2 linked regions of the Homo sapiens genome follow. The protein of the gene in region 1 purifies or fractionates together with the protein of each later gene. This does not show direct contact. Each region holds a gene or a part of one and is shown in the gene's direction. Other genes may lie near its edges. The genes, in order: GMFG and FN3K.

What was found.
Region 2: the proteins of GMFG (region 1) and FN3K purify together in Homo sapiens (affinity purification with mass spectrometry; one large-scale study listed by BioGRID and IntAct). This does not show direct contact.

What each region holds. Positions count from the first base shown.
Region 1 is NC_000019.10:39,330,340-39,333,253, reverse strand, and holds part of GMFG (glia maturation factor gamma), read left to right. Parts: intron 1-127; coding exon 128-177; intron 178-2,914.
Region 2 is NC_000017.11:82,742,023-82,745,844, forward strand, and holds part of FN3K (fructosamine-3-kinase), read left to right. Parts: intron 1-3,822. UniProt on the Homo sapiens protein: Fructosamine-3-kinase involved in protein deglycation by mediating phosphorylation of fructoselysine residues on glycated proteins, to generate fructoselysine-3 phosphate.

The sequences.
Region 1 (2,914 bases):
GGATGGTCTGAATGATTTCCTGACCTTGTGATCCGCCTGCCTCGGCCTCCCAAAGTGCTGGGATTACAGGTGTGAGCCACTGCGCCCTGCCTCATTCTTTGTCTTTTCTTCTGTTTTCTTGCCTCAGAACATTTCCCCAGAGGAGCTCAAAATGGAGTTGCCGGAGAGACAGCCCAGGTATCCTGGGGGAAGAAAGGGTTGGATCAGGCCATGAGGGGAGGGGTGATGTTGGAGGTATAGGCTAAGGGACTGCTGGAGTTCCAGCCCTATTCATGGACTTTGAATCTCTGTGTTTGGCCGAGTGAGGTGGCTCATCCCTGTAATCCCAGCACTTTGGGAGGTCAAGGAGGGTGGATCACTTGAGGTCAGGAGTTCAAGACTAGCCTGACCAACATGGTGAAATCCCGTCTCTACTAAAAATACAAAAATTAACTGGGCGTGGTGGCATGTGACTGTAATCCCAGCTACTTGGGAGGCTGAGGCACGAGAATCGCTTGAACCTGGCAGGCAGAGGCTGCAGTGAGCTGAGATCACACCACTGCACTCCAGCCTGGGTGACACAGCGAGACTCTATCTCAAAAAAAAAAAAAAAAAAAAGAATCTCTGTGTTTGAGGCCAAGAGTTCATACTCTAGAACTTTTTGTTTGTATAGCAATATTTTATTGCAGAATTTTATACCGATTATTTATGATACCGGTTTAAGAGTCTTTTTTTTTTTTTTGTACAAACTTTGTTGAGTTTTTGTTTCAACATTACGCTGGCATCATTTTTTAAAAATGAAATTTTGGCCAGGTACTATGACTCCCACCTGTAATCTCAGCCCTTTGGGAGCCTGAGGCGGGAGGATCACCTGAGGCCAGGAGTTCGAGACTAGCCTGGGCAACATAGCAAGACCTTGTCTCTATTTTTTTTTTTTTTTTGTTAGAGACAGAGTCTCGCTCTGTTGCCCAGGTTGGAGTGCAGTGGCGCGATCTTGACTCACTGCAACCTCCGCCTCCTGGGTTCAAGCGATTCTCTGGCCTCAGCCTCCTGAGTAGCTGGGATTACAGGGGCCCACCACCATGTCTGGATAATTTTTGTATTTTTAGTAGAGACATGTTGGCCAGGCTGGTCTCGAACTCCTAACCTCAGGTGATCCCTGCTTCGGCCTCCCAAAGTGCTGGGATTACAGGCGTGAGCCACCGCGCCTGGTGGAGGACCTTGTCTCTATTAAAAAAAAAAAAAATTAGCCAGGCATGGTGGCATGTGCCTGTGGTTCCAGCTACTTGGGAGGCTGATGTCGGGGGTCAGTTGAGTTCAGGAAGCTGAGGCTGCAAGTGAGCCAAGATAGCACCCCTGTACTCCAGCCTGGGTGACAGAGCAAGACCCTGTCTCAAAAAAACAAAAAAAGAAATTTTCCTTCTTTTTCAATGTTTGGGAACACTTTAGGTAGCAAACAAATTAATTATTATTATTGTTATTTTATTAAAAAAATTTTTAGAGACAGGGTCTCACTGTGTCACCCAGGCTATTGGGCAGTGCTGTGATCCTGGCTCACTGTAGCCTCTAACTCCTGGGCTCAAGCCATCCTCCTGCCTCAGCCTCCCAAGTAACTGGGACTACAGGCACTGCCACTGCACCCTGCTAAAGGAATGACTCGACTTTTAACTATCAGGTAGAATCCTGGGCGAAGTCACATGAGCCTGGTGCTTTTTTTGGTGGAAGAGCTCTTTGACTATTTCTGTGAAAACTGGTCTGCTAAGATTTTTCATCTTGACTGAATTCATTTTGGGTCTCTAGGATTAGAGGCTGTAGGACTCAACAAGGACCAGCTTCATGGGCATATGATAATTGCACAGGGCCCCGCACCCAGGAGGGGGCCTCACACATGGGGGTTAACGGTCACCTTCTTTATAGTTTTATCTTTGAATTTCTGTTTTGTATGAAGTCAGATGGGACAATGGACTTCACACAAATGTGCTGGGGTTTGGAGCTAGGTTCACAGGCAGTCCACCACCTGGCTGCCTCCCTGAACAGGTTCTCAGCCACCCACTCTCTGCACCCACCCAGTGACCGCTGCTGTCCTTGGGTTTCCTGCTGGTGTAGGGAGGGTCAGGGTCCAGAAGGCACCCCTTGCCTGACAAGTTACAGGGTGTTCCTGTGAGCATCTGCACTCTGCCTGCGCATATCCTCATGCCCGAGGGAGCACGACTTTAAATAGCAAACTAAAAAAGACAGGCTGAGCGCAGTGGCTCACACCTGTAATCTCAGCACTTTGGGAGTCTGAGGTGGGAGTACTGCTTGTGGCCAGGAGTTCAAGACCAGCCTGGGCAACATAACAAGACCCCCATTTCTACTAAAATTTTTTAAAAAAAGGCCAGGCGCAGTGGCTCATGCCTGTAATCCCAGCACTTTGGGAGGCTGAGGTGGACAGATCACTTGAGCTCAGGAGTTCGAGACCAGCCTGGGCAACATGGTGAAACTCTGTCTCTGCAAAAAACACAAAAAACATTAGCTGGATGTGGTGGCACGCCCCTGTAATCTCAGCTACTTGGGGGGCTGAGGCAGGAGGATCACCTGAACCTGGGAGGTCGAGGCTGCAATGAGCTGAGACCACGTCCCTGTACTCCAACCTGGGTGACAAAGTGAGACCCTGTCTCAAAAAAAAAAAAAAAAAAATTAGCTGGGCATGGTGGTGTGCACCTATACTCCCAGCTACTCTGGAGGCTGAGATAGGAGGATTGCTTGAGCCCAGGAGTTCAAGACTGCAGTGAGCTAGGATCGCACCATTGCACTCCAGCCTGGGCAACAGAGTGAGGCCCTGTCTCTAATAACAGTAAAAAAAAAAGACGATGATCAGTCTAGAGAGAGACTACAAAAGAAAGGAAAACAATTTTCCTGCTTCTTGAACAAGATGCCCCACATTTTCATTTTA
Region 2 (3,822 bases), on another chromosome or scaffold:
TCAGCCTCTCAAGTAGCTGGGATTACAGGCATGCACCACCACACCCGGCTAATTTTTGTATTTTTAGTAGAGACGGGGTTTCATGTTGACCAGGCTGGTCTCGAACTCCTGACCTCAGGTGATCTGCCCTCCTCGGCCTTCCAAAGTGCTGGGATTACAGGCACGAGCCACCGCGCCTGGACTTAATGTTGTATTTTTAGTAGAGATGGGGTTTCTCCACGTTGGTCAGGCTGGTCTTGAACTCCCAACCTCAGGTGATCCACCCACCTCGGCCTCCCAAAGTGCTGGGATTACAGGTGTGAGCCACCATGCCTGGCCAGAACATTTTCATTATCCTAAAGCAGAACCCATTAGCAGTCACTCCCCATTTCCCCCTTTCCTGGTCCCTGGCAACCTCTAATGTACCTTCTGTCTCTTTGAATTTTCTGGATATGTCATATGAGTGGAAACACATAATATGTGATCTTTTGTATCTTTCATTCAGCATCATGTTTCACAGCTCTTCCATGTTGTAGCAGGTGTTAGAATGTTATTCTTTTATGGCTGAATAATATTCCATTCTATGGCTAGGCCACACGTTTCTTTACATATTCCTTTTTATGGCTGAATAATACTGGAGCCTCTTGAACCATCATCTTTGAAATCTGTGAAGTTCCAAAGAAGACTTTGGACAGCCCAACTGCCCTGTGCTTCTCTTGAAGAAGCCAATATTGGACCATATTTTGGTTTTGTTAGGAACACAGCACCCATTATATAAGAGCTAGTTCAAAGTCACTGCTTCTTGAAGAGAGAATACTTTCAAATCTGTCTCCTTGTCGACGCCCGTCCTGACTAGTTGGGTCCCTGCGAACAATGACCAAGCTCTCCCTGGTGTGGGTAGAGGGTGATTCTCCCAGCTGGAGGTCACCTGGGGCAAGATCCTCATGAAGCCCAAGCAGATTTAGGGTTCCCAGCCAACAGGCAGTCCTCACATCTGGGCTCGCTAGAACTGCACATGGAGCTTACCAGATTTACCGAGACCCCCGAGATCTCAGCCACAGCTGGCTCCCCTGGGGTCACACACCTGTCCGGAGCCAGTGAGCAGCACCCTCTTCACCTGTCCAGGTGAGCACGGCTGGGTGCAGCTTGTGGTCCTGTGGTCCTGCTGTGGATGCTGAGGTCAAGGGCTGCAAGTGGCGGGCTCTACAGGACTTGGCTGGCCCAGCAGAGTGGTGTTTCAAAGAAATGAAGTGAAATCTTACCCAGAGCCCCTGTGTGTGAAGCAGACGAGAAGGGGGCTAGTCTGTTTGGAGCACAGGGAGCCCCTCAATGCCCCTCGGACTCCAGGATCAAGGAACCCACCTCAGATCAGGTGCAGCCTGGCTAGGAAGGGTGAGGCGCCAGGGAGGACACCTGCCCTGCTTCCTGCTTGTTGTGCCTCGGACAGCACCAGGTTCCGGAGGCTTCCCACTCCTTGGGAGGGCTCAATGGGTCCTGGGGGAATGTGTGCTGCAGCCAATGGGGGGCAGTGCTGAGCGGCGGGCTCCTCAGACACCTGGGCACTAAGGCCCCCTGGGGCTGCCAGCTGGGTCGGCTGTGGTGCTTGCCCCATGCTCTGTACACTGCCACATACAGGCACCCTTCTAAGCACTTCACTGAACTCAACTCACCCACTTGCCCTAGCAGGTAACCAGGCAGATAATGTCACTGATCCGTTTTATAGATGAGGAAAGTGACATGCAGAGTTCATGCCTGGGTCCATGGAGCTTGTCAGCGGGGCAGCTGGGCTTCGACCCTCAGTCTGGCTTCAGACCACAGGCCCTGACCATGACGCAGCCCCTCTGTCAGGGGAGGCCTGGTCATTGGGACCAGCTGTGTACCCAGGTGGCACCTTCCCCGGGTAGCTTGGAGGATCACAGCCCCTCTGTTCAGGTGGCAGGACTGGGCTAGCCCAGGCTGGTCGCCTGCTTCCAGCACTAAACCTGGTTGTCTTCTGGAAAGAGTACAGAGCTCAGACGCTGGGAGCTTGGGCAGGCAAATGGGAAATAACGGGAGGCTGCACGGTGCACCTCTGAGCTGGGGATCTGACAGCCAGGCTATGGGGAGGGGCCTTTCCATCCTGCTCTTGAGGTGCACACAGCACCAGAGGGTGAGCCCAGGGGCCGAGTCACCACAGCACCCATGTGCAGGGAGATTCTTGGTGGGGGCCACTGACCAGGGCGGTCCTCCCCGAAGGAGTTTTACAAAATAACCCTTTGTATAAAATCAGCTTCGTATTTTTCTCTACAGAGGTGTAATTTGACATAAATTGCACCCATTTAAAATGTATAATTTGGTACATTTTGATGTTTGTACCTGTGAACCTTTACCACAGTCAAGGTGAGTATACTGATTACCCCCAAAAGGTTCCTCGTGCCCTTCCCTGCCCCTGGGCAACCATTCATTGGTGTTGTCACTGTAGATTAGTTTGCATCTTGTGGAATTTAATATAAATAGAATCATGTGGTATGTCTTCTGTCTGCTTCTCTCATGAAGGGGTGGGTTGCCCCTCCACACCTGTGGGTGTTTCTCGTTAGGTAGAACGAGAGACTTGGAAAAGAAAAAGACACAGAGACAAAGTATAGAGAGAAATAAGGGGACCCAGGGAACTAGCGTTCAGCATATGGAGGATCCCGCCAGCCTCTGAGTTCCCTTAGTATTTATTGATCATTCGTGGGTGTTTCTCCGAGAGGGGGATGTGTCAGGGTCACAAGACAATAGTGGGGAGAGGGTCAGCAGACAAACATGTGAACAAAGGTCTTTGCATCATAGACAAGGTAAAGAATCAAGTGCTGTGCTTTTAGATATGCATACACATAAACATCTCAATGCTTTACAAAGCAGTATTGCTGCCCGCATGTCCCACCTCCAGCCCAAGGCGGTTTTTCCCTATCTCAGTAGATGGAAGGTACAATTGGGTTTTATACCGAGACATTCCATTGCCCAGGGACGGGCAGGAGACAGATGCCTTCCTCTTGTCTCAACTGCAAGAGGCATGCCTTCCTCTTATACTAATCCTCCTCAGTACAGACCCTTTATGGGTGTCGGGCTGGGGGACGGTCAGGTCTTTCCCTTCCTACGAGGCCATATTTCAGACTGTCACATGGGGAGAAACCTTGGACAATACCTGGCTTTCCTAGGCAGAGGTCCCTGCAGCCTTCCACAGTGTTTGTGTCCCTGGGTACTTGAGATTAGGGAGTGGTGATGACTCTTAACGAGTATGCTGCCTTCAAGCATTTGTTTAACAAAGCACATCTTGCACCGCCCTTAATCCATTTAACCCTGAGTTTGACACAGCACACGTTTCAGAGAGCAGGGGGTTGGGGGTAAGGTCATAGATTAACAGAATCTCAAGGCAGAAGAATTTGTCTTAGTACAGAACAAAATGGAGTCTCCTATGTCTACTTCTTTCTACACAGACACAGTAACAATCTGATCTCTCTTGCTTTTCCCCACACTCTCACTCAGCATAATCATGCTGATATTTATCCAAGTCTAAAATCCTTTGATATTCATCCGTGATACACATCCATGTTGCATGTGTCAAAAGCCCATTCCCCTGTACGGATCTAACACAGCCTGTTTATCCATTCACATGTGGATGGATTTCTGGATCATTTCCAGTTTTTGCTCATACAAATAAAGCCGCTGTGAACCTTTGTGTACAAATCTTGGTCTGGACAAATGCTTCCACTTATCTCGGGTAAATACCTAGGAGGGGGATGACTGTGTCATATGGTAGGTCCATATTTAGCTCTTTAAGAAACTACTGGCCGGGTGGGGTGGCTCACACTTGTAATCCCA